Linked DNA regions of Homo sapiens. The protein of the gene in region 2 purifies or fractionates together with the protein of the main gene of each other region. This does not show direct contact. Each region holds a gene or a part of one and is shown on either strand. Other genes may lie near its edges. The genes, in order: EXPH5, TRNAU1AP, MTO1, HELZ, SLC25A16, SLC25A15 and ZBTB20.

Evidence for each region.
Region 1: the proteins of TRNAU1AP (region 2) and EXPH5 purify together in Homo sapiens (affinity purification with mass spectrometry; one large-scale study listed by BioGRID and IntAct). This does not show direct contact.
Region 3: the proteins of TRNAU1AP (region 2) and MTO1 purify together in Homo sapiens (affinity purification with mass spectrometry; one large-scale study listed by BioGRID and IntAct). This does not show direct contact.
Region 4: the proteins of TRNAU1AP (region 2) and HELZ purify together in Homo sapiens (affinity purification with mass spectrometry; one large-scale study listed by BioGRID and IntAct). This does not show direct contact.
Region 5: the proteins of TRNAU1AP (region 2) and SLC25A16 purify together in Homo sapiens (affinity purification with mass spectrometry; one large-scale study listed by BioGRID and IntAct). This does not show direct contact.
Region 6: the proteins of TRNAU1AP (region 2) and SLC25A15 purify together in Homo sapiens (affinity purification with mass spectrometry; one large-scale study listed by BioGRID and IntAct). This does not show direct contact.
Region 7: the proteins of TRNAU1AP (region 2) and ZBTB20 purify together in Homo sapiens (affinity purification with mass spectrometry; one large-scale study listed by BioGRID and IntAct). This does not show direct contact.

Annotation. Positions count from the first base shown.
Region 1 is NC_000011.10:108,587,269-108,590,768, reverse strand, and holds part of EXPH5 (exophilin-5), read left to right. Parts: intron 1-3,500. UniProt on the Homo sapiens protein: May act as Rab effector protein and play a role in vesicle trafficking.
Region 2 is NC_000001.11:28,570,085-28,573,584, forward strand, and holds part of TRNAU1AP (tRNA selenocysteine 1-associated protein 1), read left to right. Parts: intron 1-1,091; coding exon 1,092-1,254; intron 1,255-1,782; coding exon 1,783-1,816; intron 1,817-3,500. UniProt on the Homo sapiens protein: Involved in the early steps of selenocysteine biosynthesis and tRNA(Sec) charging to the later steps resulting in the cotranslational incorporation of selenocysteine into selenoproteins. Stabilizes the SECISBP2, EEFSEC and tRNA(Sec) complex.
Region 3 is NC_000006.12:73,475,237-73,478,736, reverse strand, and holds part of MTO1 (5-taurinomethyluridine-[tRNA] synthase subunit MTO1, mitochondrial), read right to left. Parts: intron 1-3,500. UniProt on the Homo sapiens protein: Component of the GTPBP3-MTO1 complex that catalyzes the 5-taurinomethyluridine (taum(5)U) modification at the 34th wobble position (U34) of mitochondrial tRNAs (mt-tRNAs), which plays a role in mt-tRNA decoding and mitochondrial translation.
Region 4 is NC_000017.11:67,235,197-67,238,696, forward strand, and holds part of HELZ (probable helicase with zinc finger domain), read right to left. Parts: intron 1-3,500. UniProt on the Homo sapiens protein: May act as a helicase that plays a role in RNA metabolism in multiple tissues and organs within the developing embryo.
Region 5 is NC_000010.11:68,503,524-68,507,023, reverse strand, and holds part of SLC25A16 (solute carrier family 25 member 16), read left to right. Parts: intron 1-305; coding exon 306-439; intron 440-3,328; coding exon 3,329-3,392; intron 3,393-3,500. UniProt on the Homo sapiens protein: May be involved in the transport of coenzyme A in the mitochondrial matrix. Very little is known about the physiological function of this carrier.
Region 6 is NC_000013.11:40,792,611-40,796,110, forward strand, and holds part of SLC25A15 (mitochondrial ornithine transporter 1), read left to right. Parts: intron 1-547; 5' UTR 548-616; coding exon 617-671; intron 672-3,500.
Region 7 is NC_000003.12:114,335,789-114,339,288, reverse strand, and holds part of ZBTB20 (zinc finger and BTB domain-containing protein 20), read left to right. Parts: coding exon 1-284; 3' UTR 285-3,500. UniProt on the Homo sapiens protein: May be a transcription factor that may be involved in hematopoiesis, oncogenesis, and immune responses. Plays a role in postnatal myogenesis, may be involved in the regulation of satellite cells self-renewal.

The DNA.
Region 1 (3,500 bases), on a different chromosome or scaffold from region 2:
AGGCTCAGGTGGGAGGATCCCTTGAGCTCAAGAGTTCAAGGCTGCAGTGAACTATGATTGTTCCACTCCAACCAGAGTGACACAGTAGAGACCCTGTCTTTAAAAATAAAATAAATAAAATCATTTTTTTTTAAAAAAGAACTACAGTGTCATGCAGGGCCAGAGATGTTCTGAGATAGGTGTGAGGGTAGTTGAGTTCATCATGCAGAAGGCAGCAGCCCCACCCACAGAAAAGTTCCTGAACACATAGAACTTTCTCCTGATCTCCCCTCATCTGTACCAGACCTCTCTGGCTCCAACTTACCAGGAAAGTATTTGCATTAAATATAATAGTTAATGTTTCTAATATATAGTTTATTCAGATTTTTAAGAAAAACACCAAGATTCAAACTGATAAATAGGCAAAAGATAGAAATAAATCATTCACACCAGAAGATATCCAAACAGTAAACATAACAGATGGGAAAATGTCTACCCTCACAGTAATAAATGAAAATTGAAGTAACCTTGAGATACCATGCTGCCCCTTTAAAAATGACAGAAAAAAAAATGTTGGTGAGGGTTGGAATGAAATGGACAGATTTTGCACATTGTTAGTGACGTTGTAAGTTGATTACAAGCTTTTTGGTGAGCATTATGGCAATATCTATCAAGATACGCCTTACGCTTGACCCAATTGTCCAATTCTTGGATATTTCTCATTAGTAGGAGATTAAGGTGGAGGAGATGGCCACACCAACATATATTAAGTGCTGCCTTTTTATGTAATAATAGTAATTATTGTGGTAATAACGACAGCTAACATTTATTAGGCCCTTACTATATACTAGGCACTGTACTAAACATGTTATACAGATTTAATTAATCCTCCCAATAACCTCATTAGGTATACACTTTAATTCTCATTTCACAGAGAAGGAAACAATTAAAAAAGGTCGAGTATTTTGTCCAACTTAAGCAGCAGAGCCAGAATTTATAATCCAGATCTATTTCAAAACTACTTTACCCATCAAGATTGAATAATCCTCACAACCATTTCTTGGGGTATTATTAATGGCTTTTTATAGAAGGAAAACTGAAATTTAGCAACGTTAAGGAACTTGCCTAAGGTCACACAGCTCATAAACGTCAGAGATAGAATTTGAACCTAAATCTATCTGGCATCAGAACCAGATGTTACGGTGCCTGGAGTAATCAAGTTTTTAAATGGCATGTCTAGATTTAGACCATTTTTTGCTCCATGGCAAGATTGCAGCCCAGGAGGGTTTTCCAGAATTTAGTTTTTTCTGATTGATTTACACTAATATCCTTGAGCTGTGGCACAGGTCTGAACAGGACTGTATATGTCAAAGTCATAAAGTGGTCTATAGCTGGTGGCAGCTGCCACATCCGGCAGAGGTTAAAAGCCAGATACACAAGCCTCCTGCCTCCCCTACACATTCTGCCTGCCCTCTCCTCTCCCAGCCTGTGAAATCTGCCTCTGGCTAAGGGGCAGAGTTTCTAGAGACATTGGATGTCTACTGATTGGGCTTTTTACTGTGTGCCAGACACTGGATTGGCCCTGAGAATACAGTGGAAAATAAAACACAGATTCTGTCCCAAATGGCTTCAGTCTATGAAAGGTTTTCATTGGCGATAGAATGTGTAAGATGAACTGTAGCTCGCCCTTATGCAGTCCTGTGTGGCCTGGAAAAGGGACAACAAGAACAATGCCTGGAAGTCACAAGTGTGCTCAGGAGGCTTGAGCAAGTTCTGAAACATAACAAAGTACCAGATTAACACACCACGGATCTCTGAGCTGTCTGCACTTTCCAATGGCATCCAATTTAGTTAATTCCTTTAAACTGAGGGAGAACTTCCTCTCAGATACATTTTCCTGTCTAGTTACTCCTGTGGATTTGTCCCCACAGGCAATACACACAGAACTACTATAATAATATCGTTCCATATCCCAATGCCAAGCAGCAGTGTTCTTTTTAAGCTTAGTGATATTATAACTCTTTTAGCTTATAAAGTCTTTCATATTTTTTTATCCTCATCCTCAACCTGATAAAGCAAATACTATTATCTTCTTTTCCAAAAGCTAATAAAACAACTGTAATAATAGCTAACATTTGTTGAGTATTGACCCATGCTAAGCTCTTTGTGTGCACTATCTCATTTAATTCTTACAACAACCTGATGAGTTAAGGGATATCTTTATCTCCATTCGACAAAGGAAGCTTAGAAAGGGTAAGTGACATGCTTGAGATAATACTGCTAGGGAGTGTCCGATTTGGGAACTCCATCTGTACATAATCACTGTGCTGTGCTGCCTCCTACAGTACCAAAAAGTTGAAGTGACTTTCCTCACCTGGCCCATCTAGCTCATAACAGAACCAGGACTGGGATCTATCCACTTTAAATCTCTTGCTATTTTATCTCCATTCACCATAAAAATAAAAAACACACAATTCTATGTAGTCAAATGCTCAGCTAAAAGTTGGAGATGTTATTACTAAGGAAAATGGCATAATGGGTATGGGAAGATAACTGATACCATCTGCCTATATAGAAAAAATTGCTGGCAACCATTTATGTTAAAAATGCATATATGCATTCTATAAGGAAGACTTTATACTGTTAAAATGATTATCTTTGGGGAATCACATTTAAAGGGACTTTAACCCTTTTACTACTGTTTTATTTTTTAGTTATCATATGTTATTAAAAATAGGGCCAGGTGCTGTGGCTCACGCCTGTAATCCCAGCACTTTGGGAGGCTGAGATGGGTGGATTGCCTGAGGTCAGGAGTTTGAGACCAGCCTGGCCAACACGGTGAAACCCCATCTCTACTAAAAATACAAAAATTAGCCAGGCTTGGTGGCTGGCACCTATAAGCCCAGCTACCTGGGAAGCTGAGACAGAAGAATCGCTTGAACCCAGGAGGTGGAGGTTGCAGTGAGCCGAGACCGCGCCATTGTACTCCAGCTTGGGTAACAAGAGCAAAACTCTGTCTTGAAATAAATACATAAATAAATAAATAAAACTGTTTCTTTGGATAATAAATATGGAATGTTTGACTATTTTTTACTTTCATAAATGTCCGTTACGAAGGTAAAATACTTTTTAAAAATGTCTTTTAAAAAATAAATAACTTGTAAGGGTAAATTTCTTTTTAAAAATGTCTAAATGTTTTTCTGCCCTTGTCCTTTTCTTTACAATGTTAATGTGTGCACAGGTAAGTTGGTACATGGTAAGTTGTACATCAACCTTGATTCCTTGTGGTCAAGGATTATTTCAGGGATGGAGAGCCTCACACACTTCGGTACTCAATACCTAGTCAAATGGAACTTAACTTACTGCTATAGGCAATACAAACTAAGGGAAAGAAAGATCTGAGGAAACCAGGTGAAGGGCGAAAGAAAGTCAGGTGAAGGTTAGTCAGAAAATACTTTCATTCCTCATTAGCACAGATGGTCTTAAACCTGAGAACCACATGAAGGTCAAAAGGAGGTCAG
Region 2 (3,500 bases):
TGGATCACTTGAAGCCAGGAGTTCAAGACCACCCTGGCCAACATGGTGAAACCTCATCTCTGCTAAAAGTACAAAAATTAGCTGGGCCTCCCAGGATCAAGCGATTCTCCTTCCTTAGCCTCCCAAGTGGCTGGGATTATAGGCGTGAGCTACCACGTCTGTCTCTTTTCTTTTTTTTTTGAAACAGAGTTTCACTTTTATTGCCCAGACTGGAGTCCAGTGGCACAATCTAGGCCCATTGCAACCTCTGTCTCCCAGGTTCAAGCGATTCTCCTGCCTCAGCTTCACAAGCAGCTGGGATTGCGGGCGCGCCATCCCACCCAGCTAATTTTTTGTATTTTTAGTAGAGATGGGGTTTCACCATGTTGTCCAGGCTAGTCTTGGAACTCCTGACCTCAGGTGACCCACCTGCCTTCGCCTCCCAAAGTGTTGGGATTACAGGTGTGAGCCACCGCACCCAGCCCTTTTTTGTTTTGTTTTTTTTTTTAAACAGGATATCCTTTTGCCAGTCCTGACATAGTTTGTTAAGAGAGACAAACCTATCCATTAAAATCTCCTGTATTAAAAGCATGGTCTCTGGAGCCATACTCTCATATTAGCTGTGTGACTTTGGACAAATTACTTAACCTCTCTGTTCCTCAGTTTCCTTATCTGTAAAATAGGAATAATGATACACTTATTGCATATGGTTGTTTTGAGGATTAAAAGAGTTAATTGGTGGCCGGGCTCCCAGCACTTTGGGAGGCTGAGGCAGGCGGATCACGAGGTCAGGAGATCGAGACCAGCCTGGCTAACATGGTGAAACCCTGTCTCTACTGAAAATACAAAAAATTAGCCAGGCGTGGTGGCACACACCTGTAGTCCCAGCTACTCAGGAGGCTGAGGCAGGAGAATCGCTTGAACCCGGGAGGCGCAGGTTGCAGTGAGCCGAGATTGCGCCCCTGTACTCCAGCCTAGGCAACAGAGCAAGACTCTGTCTCAAGAAAAAAAAAAGTTAATCGGTATAAAGCACTTAAAATAGTCTGTGGCCACATAGGCAGTGTTACGGAAATGTTTGCTTACACTTATTTTTGTTTCTGTCTTCATTTAAGGAGCCGTGTAAAGCCAGTGGAATATAGTCAGATGTACAGTTATAGCTACAACCAGTATTATCAGCAGTACCAGAACTACTATGCTCAGTGGGGCTATGACCAGAACACAGGCAGCTACAGCTACAGTTACCCCCAGTATGGCTATACCCAGAGCACCATGCAGGTAACCATGACTTGGCAAGACTGGTCCCCTTGGGTTGTGTTTCTCCTCTAGAAACAGGTCATTCTCTAGGATGGGATTGGTAAGGACAGGGGCTTGGGCTTCAGAAAAAATAGGGAAAGTTGAAGCAGTCCAGTTCCTCTTGTTAAAAATAAGCCATTGTGGGTAGGGCCCAGTGGCTCACACCTGTAATCCTAGCACTTTGAGAGGCCGAGGCAGGTAGATCACCTGAGGTCAGGAGTTCAAAACCAGCCTGGCCAACATGGTGAAACCCTGTATCTACTAAAAATACAAAAAATTAGCTGGGCATAGTGGCAGGCGCCTATAATCCCAGCTGCTCAGGAGACTGAGGCAGGAGAATCTCTTGAAACTGGGATGCGGGTGTTGCAGTGAGCCGAGATCACGCCACTACACTCTAGTCTGGGTGACAGAGCTAGACTCCACCTCAAAAAAAATAAAAAATATAAGCCACTGTGGTCCTGGGCCAGGATTTCACCATGCCCCTAACCCACATCTCTGGTCTCTTGGCAGACATATGAAGAAGTTGGAGATGATGCATTGGAAGGTAAGGGTTCATACGTTCCTTACTCTGTCAGCCATTATCAGGTGACTGCTGTGGCTGGCACTGTGCTCTCAGCTAGAGGGAAGACAAGATAAATTCTGCTCTGGAAGAACTTACATTCTGGTTAGAGAGCCAGACAAATATGTAATTATGGTAAGATGTGTCGGGTGTTACCCAGAGGTGTAAGTGTAGATCCCAGAGAGCCTGGGACAGGCAGCTCCAGGAGAGCCCATCACCCCCTTGACATGTGGCATTCTATCCTGGTATGTGGGCCTCTAACGATAATACTGTTACCCTTTTTTTGTGTGTGTGTGTGGTGGAGTTTCACTCTTGTTGGCCAGGCTGGAGTGCAATGGCATGATCTCAGTTCACCGCAACCTCCACCTGCCAGGTTCAAGCAATTCTCCTGCCTCAGCCTCCCGAGTAGCTGGGATTACGGGCATGCACCACCATGCCCAGCTAATTATTTTGTATTTTTAGTAGAGACAGGGTTTCTCCATGTTGGCTTGGCCGGTCTCAAACTCTCAGCCTTAGGTGATCCGCCCGCCTCAGCCTCCCAAAGTGCTGGGATTACAGGCATGAGCCACTGTGCCTGGCCGATAATACTGTTACCTTTTATTTGTTTGACTGTTTGTAAAATTCATTTTTTATTTATTTTATTTTTTTTCTGTTTTTCAATATATTTTAAAAGACATATTTTCCTGATTTTTAAGTCATCGTTAGGATGGAAAATTTGGAAAATATAGTAAAGTATGGGCCAGGCATGGTGGCTCACGCCTCTAATCCCAGCACTTTGGGAGGCCGAGGCAGGTGGATTGTGAGGTCAGGAAATCGAGACCATCCTGGCTAACACGGTGAAACCCCGTCTCTACTAAAAAATAGAAAAAATTAGCCGGGTGTGGTGATGGGCGCCTGTAGTCCCAGCTACTCGGGAGGCTGAGGCAGGAGAATGGCGTGAACCCGGGAGGCAGAGCTTGCAGTGAGCCGAGATCGCACCAATGGGCTCCAGCCTGGGAGACAGAGCGAGACTCCGTCTCAAAAAAAAAGAAAAAGAAAATATAGTAAAGTATAATGAAACTGAAAATCACCCCATATCCTATTACAACATAGTAATAGCCATTATTAATTTTTTCTTTTTCTTTTTTTTTTTTTTTTGAGGCAGAGTCTTGCTGTGTCACCCAGACTGGAATGCAGTGGCGCAATCTCATCTCACTGCAAGCCCGCCTCCCGGGTGCAAGTGATTCTCCTGCCTCAGCCTCCCGAAGAGCTGGGATTTCAGGCACATGCCACCACGCCCAGCTAATTTTTGTATTCTTAGTAGAGACGGGGTTTCACCATCTTGGCCAGGCTAGTCTCAAACTCGACCTCGTGATCCGCCTGCCTCGCCTCCCAAAGTGCTGGGATTACAGGGGTGAGCCACCGTGCCCAGCCCATTATTAATTTTTTAATTAAAAATATTTAAGCCTTGCACGGTGGCTCACCCCTGTAATCCCAGCCCTTTGGGAGGCCAAGGAGGGTGAATCATGAGGTTAAGAGATCGAGACCATCTTGGCCAACATGGTGAAACCCCGTCTCTACTAAAAATAAAAAAATTGCCAGGCGCGGTGGCTCACCCCTGTACTCCCAGCACTTTGGGAAGCCACGGCGGGAGGATCACCTAAGGTCGGAAGTTCTAGACCAGCCTGGC
Region 3 (3,500 bases), on a different chromosome or scaffold from region 2:
AACTCTGTCTCTACTAAAAAAATCCAAAAAATTAGCCAGGCATGGTGGCAGGTGCCTGTAATCCCAGCTACTTGGGAGGCTCAGGCAGGAGAATCGCTTGAACCCAGGGGGTGGAGGTTGCAGTGGGCCAAGCTTGCGCCATTACCATTGCACTCTAGCCTGGGCAAGACTCTGTCTCAAAAAAGAAGAAAGGGTTATCATAATTTGCATACTACCAAAGCAAATATATAAAAGTATCTTGCTCAAAGTAACAGAATATTTGAAGCCATACATCAGGATAACACTCACCAGAAACTAGGACCATCAATTATTTTTTTTTTGTACAGGCAGGGTCTCATTATGTTGCCCAGGCTGGTCTTGAACTCCTAGGCTTAAGTGATCCTCCTACCTTGGCCTCCCAAAGTGCTGGTATTACAGGTGAGAGTCACTGTGCCTGGCCAATTCTTCATCCTCAATCTTAAACACATACAATATACTTTTTTTTTTTTTTTTGAGACAGAGTCTTGCTCTGTCGCCAGGCTGAAGTGCAGTGGCATCATCTCTGCTCACTGCAACCTCTGCCTCCCGGGTTCAAGCAATTCTGCCTCAGCCTCCCAAGTAGCTGGGACTACAGGGGCATGCCACCATGCCCAGCTAATTTTTGTATTTTTAGTAGAGACGGGGTTTCACCATGTTGGCCAGGATGGTCTCAATCTTTTGACCTTGTGATCCACCTGCCTTGGCCTCCCAAAGTGCTGGGATTACAGGTGTGAGCCACCATGCCACGCCACATTTTTTTAAAACTCGAGAGATAGGTAAAAGTGGCCTCTACACTTCAAAAATGTCGGCACCATTAAAGATTGACAAACTGTTCCAGATAAAAGACTTTAAAGAGAAATGACAATTAAACGCAATGCATGACCCTTGATTGGGAATAAAAAGGTTGTTTTGGGCTAGGCTTGGTGGCTCATACTTGTAATCCCAGCACTTTTGGGGCCCAAGGCAGGCAGATCCCTTCAGTCCATGAGTTTGAGACCAGCCTGGGTGACACTGCAAAAACTCATCTCTACAAAAAATACAAAAAGTAGCCAGCCATGGTGGTGAGCACCTGTGGTCGCAGCTACTTGGGAGGCTGAGGTAAAAGGATCATCCAAGCCTGGGAGGCGGAGGTTACAGTGAGCTGAGATTGCACCACTGCACTCCAGCCTGGGCAACACAGTGAGATCCTATCTCAAAAAAAAAAAAAAAGCTGCTTTGGACAATATTTACCAATTAGCAAAATGTGACTACGGACTTTATGTTAGATAATAGCACTGTATCAGTGTTAAATTCTCCGAATTTCTTTTTTTTTTTTTTTTTTTTTTGAGACATAGTCTTGCTGTTGCCCAGGCTGCAGTGCAGTGGCACAATCTCAGCTCACTGCAACCTCCCCATCCCTGGTTCAAGCGATTCTCATGCCTCAGCCTCCTGAGTAGCTGGGATTACAGGCGCATGCCACCATGCCCAGCTAATTTTTGTATTTTTAGTAGAGGTGAGGTTTCACCATATTGGCCAAGCTGGTCTTGAACTCCTGACCTCAAGTGATCCACCTGCCTTGGCCTCCCAAAGTGCTAGGATTATAGGCATGAGCCACTGCGCCTGGACTCTTTTCTGTCTTTAAAAAAATTTTTTGGTCAGGCGCAGTGGCTCATGCCTGTAATCCTAACACTTGGGAGGCCAAGGCGGGCAGATCATTTAAGAACAGCAGTTCAAAACCAGCCTGCCCAACATGGTGAAACCCTGTCTCCACTAAAACTACAAAAATTAGTCAGGCGTGTTGGCGGGTGCCTGTAATCCCGGCTACTGAGGAGGCTGAGGCATGAGAACTGACTGAACTCAGAAGGCGAGATTGCAGTAAGCCGAGATTGCACCACTGCACTCCAGCCTGGGGGATAGTGTGAGGCTCCGTCTCAAAAAAAAAAAAAAAATTTAAATTTTATTGTCCCTGCATCGTACTCTGAATTTCATCATTGCATAAGGGTTATATAAAAGGATGTCTCTGTGCTTAGTTGAGATATAGGCTTAAGGTAAGAGCTCATCATCTCTGCAATTTACTCCCAAATATTCCAGAAAAAAAAGAATAAGAATAAATGTGTATATTACCATCTTACACAGTAAATATGGACATAAATTGATATATCTATAGCGATAAATATGGTAAAATATTAACAGTGAGTGACGTTCAATGGTTTATAGGAGTTTGTTGTGAAAAAACTCTTACATTGAGAAAAGTCTTACAACTTTTTCTCGATGTTGCTTACTTTTTTTTGTTTTTCTCCGTCTTTTTAAAATAAAATTATATGCGTTGAGGGTTAACTTTCTTTTTTTTTTTTTTTTTTTGAGATGGAGTCTTGCTGTTGCCCAGGCTGGAGGCTGGAGTGCAGTGGCACAATCACAGCTAACTGCAACCTCTGCCTCCCAGGTTCGAGCAATTTTCCTGCCTCAGCCTCCCGAGTAGCTGGGATTACAGGCATGAGCCACCATGCCTGGCTAATTTTTTTATTTTTTTTTTATTTTTAGTAGGGATGGAGTTTCACCATGTTGGCCAGACTGGTCTTGAACTCCTGACCTCAAGTGATCCACCTGCCTCAGCCTCCCAAACTGTTGGGATTACAGGCATGAGCCACCACGCCCAGCTGAGGGTTAACTTTCAATAGATCGCAGCGAGGAAGTTGCTCTGCTATGTCTGAAATCCCACCCCAGAAGCAGGTCATCTAAGAATGGTTCAGTGTCGGGTTCTCCATAAAAATGCATTGTGTAATGGGCAAGGGGGCGGCTGCCTTTCCAGCAGCACCACCTGATATCGTTTCAAAAGCTTAATTTAGGCCGGGCATGGTGGCTTACGCCTGTAATCCCAGCATTTTGGGAGGCTGAAGGTGGATCACCTGAGGTCAAGAGTTTGAGACCAGTTGGGTGCGATGGCTCACACCTGTAATCCCAACACTTTGGGAGGCCGAGGCGGGCGGATCACCTGAGGTCGGGAGCTCGTGACCAGCCTGACCAACATGGAGAAACCCCATCTACTAAAAATACAAAATTAGCCAGGTGTGGTGGCACATGCCTGTAATCCCAGCTACTTAAGAGACTGAGGCGGGAGAATTGCTCGAACCCGTGAGGTGGATGTTGCAGTGAGCCGAGATTGTGCTGTTGCGTTCCAGCCTGGGCAACAAGAGTGAAATGCCATCTCAAAGAAAAAAAAAAAAAAAGAGTTCAAGACCAGCCTGATCAACATGGTGAAACCCTGTCTCTACTAAAAATGCAAAAACAAATTAGCTGGGCATGGCGGCGGGCACCTGTAATCCCAGCTACTAGGGAGGCTGAGGCAGGAGAATTGCTTGAACCCAGGGGGCGGAGGCTGCAGTGAGCTGAGATCGTGCCATTGCACCACAGGTTGGGCAACAAGACTGAATCTCCATCTCAAAAAGCAAAACAAAACAAAACAAAAAACGCCTATTTGACCAGGTGCGGTCGCTCATGCCTGT
Region 4 (3,500 bases), on a different chromosome or scaffold from region 2:
TCCAAGCAGCCACAAAGAGACAACAGAAGGCCGGGCGCGGTGGCTCACACCTGTAATCCCAGCACTTTGGGAGGCCAAGGCGGGTGGATCACGAGGTCAGAAGTTCAAGACCAGCCTGAACAACATGGTGAAACCCCGTCTCTACTAAAAATACAAAAATTAGCAGGGCATGGTAGTGCGCACCTGTAATCCCAGATACTCAGGAGGCTGAGGCAGGAAAATCACTTGAACCAGGGAGGCGGAGGCTGCAGTGAGTCGAGATCGTGTCACTGTACTCCAGCCTGGGCAACAGAGCGAGACTCCCTCACAAAAAAAAAAAAAAGAGAGAGACAACAGAAGCCAGAACCCACAAATGGTCAAGCCTCAAGCAGTGTCCTGCTTCAACCCAGCACATGCCATCACAAGAACTTGAGAACCACTCAGAGGAGCAGTGATACAAAGGGGCTCACAGCAGATGCCCAATAAATACTTGCTGAACTGAATCCTGGAATAATCCATCTGTTCCCCTTCAAACACTCTTCCCAAGATCATTTACCATTTTGACCACACACTCTTTTTTTTTTTTTTTTTTTTTTTTGAGACGGAGTCTCCCTCTTTTGCCCAGGCTGTACGCAGTGGTGCTATCTCTATCTCGGCTCACTGCAAGCTCCACCTCCCGGGTTCACACCATTCTCCTGCCTCAGACTCCCGAGTAGCTGGGACTACAGGCACCTGCCACCACGCCCGGCTAATTTTTTGTATTTTTAGAAGAGACGGGGTTTCATCGTGTTAGCCAGGATGGTCTCGATCTCCTGACCTCCTGATCCGCCCGCCTTGGCCTCCCAAAGTGCTGGGATTACAGGCGTGAGCCACTGCACCCAGCCTCGACCACACACTCTTGTGAACAATTTTTACTGACCATATTATACCAGCCTTACCATTCAAAGCCTACAATAGTTAATTGCATAATATAGCAACTGATATCAACAAACAGTTCACCATAAAGAGGCTCAAATAGTTAAATTCAACATTATATAACAAAGAAATGAAAGTGCCATTTTACACTATTAAATTCACAAAAACTTCTGAAGAAAAATGGTTTTCTCTACTACTTATGGTAAAACAGGTATATCCATATATCTGTTAGGAGCACAAACTGGTATAACACCCTTGAAAACAGTAGGACAATATATGTGAGGAGCCATAAAAACACTGATACCCCTTAACATAATAACACACTCCAAAATTTATCCTTAAGATATCATTAGAAAAAATGCAACAGTATCTACAATGATGTAGATTAAAGTGTTAACTGAAAACCACCCAGACAGCAGTATAAATACTTCACATAAAAAGACTTAGGTAAATTGTAGCATGACTTGATGAAATTATTTTTGCAGCCTTTCAATATATAAAGTTAAATTATAAAATCTATAAGATGTAAATGTTTCATGATATAGTAAGTTTTTAAAAATCAAACTATAATGTATCATAATTTAAAATGAATTTTAAAATGTATATTTTGAAATGAAATGCCAAAAAGAAAATCAATTGTCTTAGGATAATAACCCAACATTTAACAATTTATTTATTATCAATTTATTCAACATTAAATAATAAAGTTCTACCCTACCAAGGAAATGAAGGGGTTCCAGGACACAAGCTTGATAAAGTCTCAAAAGGACCACCCCTCCCTTCTACTGCTCACTTTGGCCTTGACTGAGTGTTTTCATACTCTCCTTGGTCATGATGACCTATACTAACCCAAACCCCAGTTTTTCAAGGACCAGCCAACTGCCTCAATTGGTCCTCTGATCATCCCTATGAACCCGTGGGAGACAAATCATGCAAAACAAGCGAACACTCAAGAAACAAAGAACCTGGCCGGGCGTAGTGGTTCACGCCTGTAATCCCAGCACTTTGGGAGGCCAAGGCGGGTGGATCACCTGAGGTCAGGAATTCGAGACCAGTCTGACCAACATGGCAAAGTCCCAAGCTACTAGGGAGGCTGAGGCAAGAGAATCGCTTGAACCCAGGAGGCAGAGGTTGCAGTGAGCCGAGATCCCACCAGTGTACTCCAGCCTGGGCGACAGAGTGAGACTCTGTCTCGAAAAAAAACAATTTTTTTGATTTATTTATTAGTTTAACATTTATTACTTTAACAATTTACTTATTTATTACTTTAACCAATCAGCAAGTAGTCAGCCCAAGTTTCACTGTAAACCCTAAAAATATACAATATTGCCACATTAAAGTCTCTGGGATTCTCAAGGCTAACTTGCTGACTTAGCAGTGGACTGTATCAGTTAAAAGGCAGTGTGGACTCAGACAATCAAAGAACCAGGGGCCAGGAGACCTGAGAACAATTAAAAGCAAAATGTAGATAGATTTTTTTTTTAACTACAAAAAACACAAAGCTAAAAAGTCCAGCTTAAACCAGATGAGTAAAAAAATAGCTGGAGATATTCTTTTAAGTCTTAGCCAGAGTGCAAAAGGGAGGATGGAAAGTCATTTTATTAAGAGCTGAAGCTAGCCCGGCACAGTGGCTCACACCTGTAATCCCAGCTCTTTGGGAGGCCAAGGCGGGTGGATCACTTGAGGTCAGGAGTTCGAGACCAGCCTGACCAACATGGTGAACCCCCATCTCCAGTAAAAATACAAAATTAGTCAGGCGTGGTAGCGCACACCTATAGTCCCAGCTACTTGGGAGGCTGAGGCAGGAGAATCACTTGAACCCAAGAGGCAGAGGTTACAGTGAGCTGAGATCGCCCCATTGCACTCCAGCCTGGGCAACAAAAGCAAGACTCCATCTCAAAAAAAAAAAAAAAAAGACCTGAAGCTTTTTGCGGATGAAGATATCTCACAAAAGACAAGTACTGAAAATTCATGGCCAGGCATGGTGGCTCACACCTGTAATTCCAGCACTTTGGGAGGCCAAGGCAGGTGGATCATGAGGTCAGGAGTTTGAGACCAGCCTGGCCAACATAATGAAACCCCGTCTTTACTAAAAATACAAAAAAATTAGCCAGGCATGGTGGCAGGCACCTATAATTCCAGCTACTTGGGAGGCTAAGGTAAGGAGAATCGCTTGAACCTGGGAGGCAGAGGTTGCAGTGAGCTGAGATTGCACCACTGCACTCCAGCCTGGGCGACACTGCCAAGACTCTGTCTCTCAAAAAAAAAAAAAAAAAAAAAGGAAGAAAATTAATTTAAAAATAATTTTAGGTCGGGTGCGGTGGCTCACGCCTGTAATCCTGACACTTTGGGAGGCCGAAGCGAGTGGATCACCTGAGGTCAGGGGTTTGAGGCCAGCCTGGCCAACATGGTAAAGCCCTGGCTCTACTAAAAATACAAAAAGTAGCTGGGCATGGTGGCGGGCGCCTGTAATCCCAGCTACTCAGGAGGCTGAGGCAGGAGAATTGCTTGAACCCAGGAGGCGGAGGTTGCAGTGAGCCGAGATCGTGCCATTCATTGCACTCCAGCCTAGGTGACAAAAGCGAAACTCCGTCTCAAAAAAATAA
Region 5 (3,500 bases), on a different chromosome or scaffold from region 2:
TGTTAATATTTTTTAGATTGCTATAGTTTAATATAATTTGCTATTATTATAAATAGAATTTGCTGTAATTTGTAGTTGTTTCTACAGTAGGTTTTATATTATATGGGGTGTGCTTATTTATATTATTTGGATATATGATGCATTTTTAGTAGGTTTAACTGTTTTATAGAAATTACTATTCATGTAATCCCTCAAGCAAAATTATATCTTGAGTGATGGCACATTAATCTTTATCTGTGATTGTCATGAAAATTTAGGTTTAGATAATTTTCTCTGTTTTAACAGCATTTTTCCTCTAAAAATAGGAGTATTTTCTGCATTGCGTGCTGTTCCTCAAAAAGAAGGATTCCTTGGATTGTATAAAGGAAATGGTGCAATGATGATTCGAATCTTTCCCTATGGTGCAATCCAGTTTATGGCATTTGAGCATTATAAAACGGTAGTTAAACTTTGATCTTTTCTCTTTTGCGTTCTTGAATATCATGCATGCTTGACCAGGCATTTGCTTTGGACATTTAAAAATATGTAAAAGTTTCATATTTTTAAAAAGTTAAATTATTGGTTTTTTTTTTTTAATTTTTGAGACAGAGTCTCGCTGCCCAGGCTGGGGTACAGTGGCACGATTTTGAAAGGCTCACTGCAACCTCGCCTCCTGGGTTCAAGCGATTCTCCTGCCTCAGCCTCCTGAGTAGCTGGGATTACAGGCCTATGCCACCATGCCTGGCTAATTTTTGTATGTTTAGTAGAGACAGCGTTTTGCCATTTTGGCCAGGCTTGTCTCAAACTCCTGGCCTCCCAAAGTGTTGGGATTGCAGGCATGAGCCATGGTACCAGGCCAAAAAGTTACTTTTGATATAGCAATGCCTTTTTAAAGGAATAAGACTTGTGACAGCTTAAGATTTTAAATATAACTTGTCTTTGGAATTACCGATTCCAGAATTGTTAGTCATTTATGAGTTATTTATTTATTTATTTATTTAATTTTATTTTTTGAGATGGAGTCTCACTCTGTTGCCCAGGCTGGAGTGCAGTGGTGCACTCTTGGCTCACTGCCACCTCCATCTCCTGGGTTCAAGCAGTTCTTTGCCTCAGCCTCCTGAGTAGCTGGAATTACAGGCGCCCGCCACCACACCCAGCTAATTTTTGTATTTTTAGTAGAGATGGGGTTTCACCATCTTGGCCAGGCTGGTCCTGAACTCCTGACCGCGTGATCCACCCGCCTCCGTCTCCCAAAATGCTGGGATTACAGGCTTGAGCCACCGTGCCCGGCCTTTATTTATTTATTTTTTCAGACGGAGTTTCACTTTTGTTCCCTAGGCTGGAGTGCAATGACATGATCTTGGCTCACTGCAATCTCTGCCTCCCAGATTCTTACAGGCATGCACCACCATTCCTGGCTAATTTTGTATTTTTAGTAGAGGCGGGGTTTCACCATGTTGGTCAGGCTGGTCTGGAACTCCTGATTCAGGTGATCTGCCCACCTTGGCCTCCCAAATTCTTGGGATTACAGGCATAGCCACTGCACCCGGCCAAGTAAATTCTTTATGTTCACTCCTAATGAATGAGAGCTAGAATATCTTTAAAGAAGATAATAATAAATCCATATAATATTAATATATTTTTAATGTGTTTCCCTTCCCTCCTTCCCTCCCTCTTTTCTTTTCTTTTCTTTCTTTTTTGAGATAGTTTCTCTGTCACCTAGGCTGGAGTGCAGTGATGTGGTCCTGGCTTACTGCAGCCTCAACCTCACGGACTCAAGCAATTCTCCCACTTCAGCCTCCTGAGTAACTGGCACTAGAGGCATGTGCCACCACCCCCGGCTAATTTGTTTTTTCTTTCTTTTTCAGAGGTGGAGAAGAGGCCTGGCTGATTTTTTAAAAAATATTTTGTAGAGATGGGGTCTCACTGTGTTGCCCATGCTAGTCTCGAACTCCTGGGCCCAAGCTATCTGTGGGCCCCAGCCTTTAGTGTGCTTTTTGTTACTCAATTGTAGGAGAGGAACACTGTGACTTTGGATTTTCTTATTAAACAAAATAGTGAAACTGGCTGGGCACAGTGGCTCATGCTTGTAATCACAGCACTTTGGGAGGCCGAGGTGGGAGTATCAGCTGAGGTCGGAAGTTTGAGACCAGCCTGACCAACATGGAGAGACCCCTTCTCTACTAAAAATACAAAATTAGCTGGATGTGGTGGCGCATGCCTATAATCCCAGCTACTCAGGAGGCTGAGGCAGGATAATCGCTTGAACCCGGGATACGGAGGTTGCAGTGAGCCAAGATCGTGCCATTGCACTCCAGCCTGGGTGACAGAGTGAGACTCCGAATCAAAACAAAAAACAAAAAACAAGGCCGGGTGCGGTGGCTCATGCCTGTAATCCCCAGCACTTTGGGATGCCGAGGCGGGCGGATCACAAGTTCAGGAGATCGAGACCATCCTGGCTAACATGGTGAAACCCAGCTACTCAGGAGGCTGAGGCAGGAGAATGGTGTGAACCCAGGAGGCGGAGCTTGCAGTGAGCCGAGATCGCACCACTGCACTCCAGCCTGGGCGACAGAGCCAGACTCTGTCTCAAAAAAAAAAACAAAAAAAACACAAGCAGCAGAGATCGGAACAACATTCTAAGCTAGTCAGCCAAAGAGAATTGATGCCATTTGTGTATCAGGACTTCATTGTCTATAGAGCATTTAAAAAATAAAATAAAAAATTAGGCTGGGTGCGGTGGCTTCAGCCTATAATCCCAGCACTTTGAGAGGCCGAGGTGGGTGGATCACCTGAGGTCAGGAGTTCGAGACCAGCCTGACCAATGTGGTGAAACCCCGTCTCTACTAAAAAATAAAAAATTAGCCGGGCGTAATGGCACACGGCTGTAGTCCCAGCTACTTGGGAGGCCGAGGCAGGAGAATCGCTTGAATCTAGGTTGCAGTGAGCCGAGATCGTGCCACTGCAATCCAGCCTGGGACACAGAGCGAGACTTCATCTCAAAAAAAAAAAAAAAAAAAAAAAAAAGTAGCAGTTTATTCCTACTACCCCCAGTCACTTGTTAAGGGCTTGTGTTCCTTAATACACAGTATCATATACTTAGCAATACTAAGCTAGCTTGCTTCTGCAGAAATGCAAAAAATTAAAGCAGAGACTACAGAGGAAATATCCCCTTCTGCTGTGATATAACACTGCCAAGCTGTATTTAATTGTGCTCATTTCGTTCACATTTATTATTAATTTCCTTTTTATTAGTCCTGTAACTCTTGAAATAAATCTTCATTATTAAACAGTGAAATGGGCAGCATTTAAAAAATATCTCATTTAATTCAGTGTTCTTGTTTTCTAGTTAATTACTACGAAGCTGGGAATTTCAGGTCATGTGCACAGATTAATGGCTGGATCCATGGCAGGTAAGAGGAGTTAGGTATATTTTATTTCTGACAAATTAATTTTCTATTAAAATATTTAATTTGGTTTAGATTATATGAGTGCCATTGGGGAAAGCACAGGTTGCAGGT
Region 6 (3,500 bases), on a different chromosome or scaffold from region 2:
TCACCTTGTACAGATGAGGACTCCCAGCTGTAGAGGCTGAAGGAGCCACACTGCAGGTAGAGCAGGCATTCACCAAGGCGTGTGTGATCCCAGGGTGCAGCTCCCACCCTTGGCTGCCTGGGTGCTCTTTTCCAGACCTACTGTCTTGTGAGATCCCCTTAGGCACCCAGCACAGGCTGCTGTCTGAATTTAGAACTGAGCCTGTTCAATTGATGGCTCAACATAGGCCTCTAAAAAAACAAGTCTGATGCGGTTTGGTACACCTGTGGTTGGCTTACTTATTTGGTGTTCGTTTTTTCAGTTTTCAGAAAGGTCAGTTGAAGTGCTGCTGGTGGCTGTAGCATTGATACACAGGGGAGGTTTTTGATCTGTGAGCTTTCTAGGAGGCAGTTGCTAAGCTGCACTGATACCTTGAGCCCCTTTCCTTTGGAACAGTGTGGACCCCAGGTCATGGCTCCCAGAAGTTTAGGTTCTGTAATTTGGCTGCAGGCCTAGAGAACAGGATGCTGCAGACTTGGACTAATGGTGAACTCTTGCCTCCCCCCAGGGATATGTGGTGCCTGTCATAAGCTCCAGAGAGCTGCCTTCCACAAGACCAGCAGAAGAGTGGGCAAACATGAAATCCAATCCTGCTATCCAGGCTGCCATTGACCTCACAGCGGGGGCTGCAGGTACAGTCATGTGCCTCATCACCATGTTTCTGTCGTTGATGGATGGTGTATCTGATGGTGGTCCCATGAGATTATACTACCATATTTTTACTGTACCTTTTCTGTGTTTAGATACATTTAGATACATAAATACCACTGTGTTATAGTTGCCTGCAACATCCAGTACAGTAACATCCTGTACAGGTGTATAGCCTAGGAGCAATAGGCCATACCGAATAGCCTAGGTGTGGAGTAGGCTACGCCATCTAGGGTCAGGTGTGTATGCTCTATGATAGCACAATGACGAAATTGTGTAATGACATGTATTTCAGAACATGTCCCAGTCATTAAGCAATGCCTAACTATAATCCCAGAGAAAACCCAGTTCTCTCTATTCCTCAACTACTCTCTAAATGAGATCAAATGAAAGTGGTATGAAAATACTACCTTTCTCCCTCCAGTACTTTACCTTTGGGATTAATCCATTTGATGGAAGTTTAGTATTGTTCAGAGAGTAGCAGAAGCTAGAGGAGTGTCCGTTATTGTTAACACCTTGTCAGTCAGGGTGATGGGTGGAAGGTGCCCAGTACAGCTGGAAAACAGCTCAGAGGTGAAGCCACGTGTCCATTGTCACCTGGCTGGGATATGCAGGTGATGTGGTTCTTCACTTCAAGCCTGGCAGTCTTCAGAGCCCTTGTTGTGCAAAAATAACACCATAGCATCTCCTGGGAAACACCACTTACTGTCCCTGCTAGTGTTGGGAAAGAAAGGAGGACACTCTTAGAAATGTCTTTAAAAGGCTGGGCGCAGTGGCTCACGCCTGTAATCCCAGCACTTTAGGAGGCCAAGGCGGGCAGATCACCTGAGGTGAGGAGTTCAAGACCAGCTTGACCAACATGGAGAAACCCCGTCTCTTCTAAAAATACAAAATTATCCAGGCGTGGTGGTGCATGCCTGTAATCTTAGCTACTTGGGAGGCTGAGGCAGGAGAATCGCTTGAACCCCGGAGGCGGAGGTTGTGGTGAGCCAAGATCGCGCCATTGCACTCCAGCCTGGGCAACAACAGTGAAACTCTGTCTCAAAAAAAAAAAAAAAAGACATGTCTCTGAAAATGAGACTGATAATGGACTGTGTCTTAGAGCCGTGAAAGTTGTAGGATTTGCTGGGAATGTCAGCTAACCTGAGCCTAGGGGCCTGAGCCCAAGAGCCTGAGGCTCCCCCAGCACAGGGAGGTGCTACCTGTGATAAGGGGTAGTGCTGGCACCATGCAGGCTACTCCTTAGAAAGATCAGCTTGAACATGCAGGAAGAGCAGGACCCTCAGGCTGGGAAACAGGGCGGAATGGGAAGTGCATGGTGGTAATTTGGTTCTCCAGAGTCCAGAAGTAGGAGGAGTGGCTGGAATACTGATTGCCCAAAGGAAAACCCTGGACTACCCTGGGCTCCCGCAGGATTCTCATAGTAGTTGCAGCTCCCTGGAGTGGGGAGGCCAGCGGGGGTGTTGCCCAGTGCTGTCCTTATCCAGCACACCCCCCACCCCCACCACCAGCAGATGAGTATGGTCATGAATATGGTCACCTCATCAGTCATTTGCTCAATTGTGAAAAAGAAATTGTTCAGAGAAGAGCAAAGTGTTTTTCCATGAGCCAAAGGTCAGCCAGGGTATGCTAATGAGGAAGACTGGAGAGAGCGCGTCACCGTCACCGAGCCTAATGAGGAGCACTGGGCAAGGGCACTTCTCCCAGGGCAGAACCCACAAGGAGCGTCCCAGCCCCAGATGCCCAGGGAACGGAAGGCCAGTGGGGGTCTGCCCAGTAGTCTCTTGCCCACTGCGTGCCTTTAGGCTACAGCCTCCCAAGCCCCTTTCCCCCTCCCCTCCCCCATGCCACACTGGGGAGGACGCTGACCCTGAGAATGGTGCAAACATCTGCCTGCCCCAGGCCGCCTCTCACCAGCGAGTGAATGCTCTTGGGCTCAGTTCTGTTTCTGCAGAAGGAGGGTGTTTAGCCACATATAGTCTCAGCTTTTGACATTTTATGTCTTTCAGTCAATCTGTCAAAGATCTAGAACCTATGGTGATAGAATTTAAAAGTTTACCTTTTCCTATTTATGTGCATACAGGTATTTGGGTACCACATTTATAATTTACAAGTTAGTTTGAAAGATAGAAATTGCAACAGTATGGTTGGGAGCCTGGTATGTAAGGCATTTGCTGGTGGGCATGTTTTGAACATGTATTGATCCCTTATGTATACTGACACACTGTCCCCATCACTGTTGGACAGGTATTTCCCCCTGTGCTGGCGACACAGGGACGCCCCTCACCGAGGTAGAGATGCTGTGGGTAGTCTTAACTTCTGAGGACAACGAAGCCCATTCCTGGGGGGACAGGATAGGGAGGGGGAGCGAGACATGGTCTATAGGTTGGGGGCTGGGCAGAGGAGGTGCCTAGCAGTGACACAGAAACCTCTGTTCTGCTGTGAGGCCTATGGAATGCAAATGGAACCCACTTTTGAGGATCTTGGAGTCTTGGAGTGCTGGAGCTAGAGAGACCTTTAGACATTGTTGGCTCCAATGCTCGTTGGATATGTAGAAAAAGGCCCACAGAGGAGCAGTAGATTTGTTCAAGGTTACACAGCAAGATGGTGTGAAGACAGGGCAGGACTGTGATCCCTGGGTCCCTTGTCTGGTGTCGTTGCTGTCTCTGCTTTAGTACTCCGTAATGCATCTGCAGCACACTGGAGGGGAGGGTTAGTTTGGAGCCTTTGGGCCCTGCCTTTCTGGATGTGGAACTTGCTGGGCTTTGGGAATTTTCTGCCAGCCATTGATAGGAGCAGAGGACCTGTTGTGT
Region 7 (3,500 bases), on a different chromosome or scaffold from region 2:
CCCTCAACGTGCACATGCGCCTCCACCGGGGAGAGAAGTCCTACGAGTGCTACATCTGCAAAAAGAAGTTCTCTCACAAGACCCTCCTGGAGCGACACGTGGCCCTGCACAGTGCCAGCAATGGGACCCCCCCTGCAGGCACACCCCCAGGTGCCCGCGCTGGCCCCCCAGGCGTGGTGGCCTGCACGGAGGGGACCACTTACGTCTGCTCCGTCTGCCCAGCAAAGTTTGACCAAATCGAGCAGTTCAACGACCACATGAGGATGCATGTGTCTGACGGATAAGTAGTATCTTTCTCTCTTTCTTATGAACAAAACAAAACAACAACAAAAAACAAACAAACAAAAAAGCTATGGCACTAGAATTTAAGAAATGTTTTGGTTTCATTTTTACTTTCTGTTTTTGTTTTTGTTTCGTTTCATTTTGTACTACATGAAGAACTGTTTTTTGCCTGCTGGTACATTACATTTCCGGAGGCTTGGGTGAATAATAGTTTTCCCAGTCTCCCTCGGATGGTGGCCTTAAGGCCTGGTAGTGCTTCAAGAGGTCCACTGGTTGGATCTCTAGCTACTGGCCTCTAAATACAACCCTTCTTTACAAAAAAATCTTTTAAAAAAAAGTAAAAAAAAAAAAAAAATTTCCACTTGTGAAGAGCACTACAAAAAATATATAACAAAATCTAAAAGGCCTACTGTCTTTAAGTACACCGCTTGCAGTGTTTCAGTGGACATTTTCACAATTCTGGCCGCTTGGACTTCACAGTAACCAGTTAAAACTGTGGAATATCACTTCTGGTTGAAAACCCAGAGGAAAGGCCCTGCTGTTTTCCACCTACCACGTTGTCTGATTTCATAAAAGGGCTGTGGGGGTGGGAAGGGCAGTGGGTTCGGTGGTGTGGGAAAGAAAGACGAATGGCAGGCTTCTTCCCCAGATTCTGCCCGGGTCCACACACCCTGGCCCACCTTCTCCATATCCCCCTCTTGCAGCAGAAGCCAGGAAGACTTGGACAAGCAACAAGCAACAGTGGCTATCGTATTTATTCAGTGTCTTCGCTGAGCCACAGCCTCAGCACAATCAAGAGGGACTTTCATGAAAGGCAGGAATGCAGATAAAACAAAGATATCAGAAATTTGCACCTATGTTTCTAGGTACAAGAGAAGGATTATTTCCAACAATCTTTGCAAAAAAAAAAAAAGTGTCAGGATATATTCTTGTGGAAGAGAAAAAGAAAAAGAAATGGAGGGTGGGGGGAACAATAAAAAGTTCTTGAGGCTTTTTTAATTCAAAATTTTATAGAGGGGCAAAAGTGACGTTTACCAGATAGAATGCTGATTTTTTTAATATATTTACAACAGTATTTGTGTAAAAAAAAAAACAAAAAAAGTGAAATTGTTAAAAGTAATTTTTTTCATTTTGGTTTTGCATACACTGCCACCAATTCCTTCTCTTTTATTTTATTTCACACACATATATATATTTTTTGGTAAGTCAAGACTGTTAAGGTTAGCGATACTGCTTCCAGATAGAAAGAATAAAAGGCAACTAAAGTTATATTTGAAAGAGAGGAAGGATATTTTCTTCATATTTTTTTTAATTTTTCTTAATTTTTATTATTTTAAGTATTGCCTGGGTTGATGAGGGCCTCTGTGGCCAGCCCATCCCTGCTGTAATTTGAATTGCTGCTTTGTATTTTGATATGTAGTTCTTTGACTTTAGCAAGCTTAAGTTGCCCCACTGAATAATTTTTTCAACTGATTCATCTAGAATTCTGTTCTTTTTCATGGAAGAGACTTTATCTTTCAGAAAGAGATTGCTTGCTTCTCCAAAATTTCATTGAGATCTTACAATTCTAGAATTTCTATTGACTTTACTTTTTTTCTTAGTGAAACACTAATAGTCTAGAAGTCTTGATAAATGGGGTCTTTTCTTTTGTGATCAGCCAGGAAGAGGAGTTCACAAAACTCTGCCATAGCTCCTCACCCTTCCCAACTACAAAGAGCATCATTATGAGAAGCCTGTTATAGATCAAGATGCATTGATGCCAAAATTACTTTTTTCCTTCCAAATATCACCTTCTGACTGTTTCCACCATGGTTAAGAGGGCTGAATAAGATGATCATTCTTTAGATGACGAATTAACCCTTGCTTCTTCGAAAGGTTTTAGGGAAATTAACAAAAAAATTCCCAGATGCCAACAGCCACCATTCAAAAGACCACCAATCTATTGCATCATACCAGATGCCACTCTCTCTTCCTAGTAGGGATTTCTCTCCTCGGTCCTGATCAAGGTGTTATAATAGAGACATTTTCATTATAGACAGTGTCCTGAAGGGATTCCAGCTCAAATATAGGAATTCTTAAACCTAGCTGAAACTCCCAAAGTGATTTCATTGCTGGGCATATTTTAACATACTTAGGGGAAAGCAAATCTTTAAACAAAGCAAAACACCAAACTACAGTTTTAAAAAGAAGAAAGGAGAGCGTATTTTAGTTTCAAAATTACATTACATTTTAATTTAATTTTCCTTCTAATTTTCCTGTCAGCATTTTATTTACAAAAACTGTGCAGCAAACGAGGGAAAATCTTCCAACACAAACAACTCTGTAATGACTAAATTGGTTTTATTCATATATTTTAGACATTTGGTTAACTTGGATCTTTTTCATAAGTTCTTTGTGATGCTTTGTAAGGTTAGTGTAACTGAAGTGTTTGTGAGTTTGATTTGGTCCCACAGTGCTTAATTCAGTGGATATTTTGCTAGAAGTTTTAATGTAAACTTGGGTGGTTAACTGACTATTAAGTGTAACCTATTGTGATTTCTAAGAGGAGTCCTGCCAAGAACTGTATGTCCAAAACTGATCTGTTTTAACAGTTAGTGAGGAACAGCTTCCGAGATAAAGTAAGTTCATTTTTCTATTGCTAATTTTGCTTTTTAAAATAGCAGTGTTGTAAGACTAATATTTCCACTTACCACCAATAGAGGGAGCATTAATTAACTATGTCATGGAATTGTTTTGATATTTTGGAAAACAAGTGATTCCACCCATAAAATGAAAAGAGAAGATTGACCTTAAGAAAAAAACTCTTAAAGCTAGGAGACAATGACATGAAATCACTCAATACATGTTACAAATGAAAGAAGGCCAAAAGCCACTTTAAAATATTTTAAACTGTTTCACAGTAGATTTGAAAGTGTCTTTGTTCAAATTTAGCAAAGTAGGAAGAATTTTCACTAATACCGCCTGAAAAGTTGATCTTAGGTGCCATTATGGGCCACGTGTAGCTTTCTGTTTCTCAAATCTGAGAGAGACCCATTTGCCTTAATGCTGATTTGCCATGTAAAATGCTAAGCAATTGGGTTAGAATCCACCTTTTCTTTTGGTAGAACATGTAGAGAAAAAGCTGCAGGTGACTTGAAACCCTGAGGAGTCTATCATCCTTTCCCTGTAAAGGAAGTGTCTCTTAAAAAAAAGGGAGTGGGGGAGGAGGTGGAGGATCC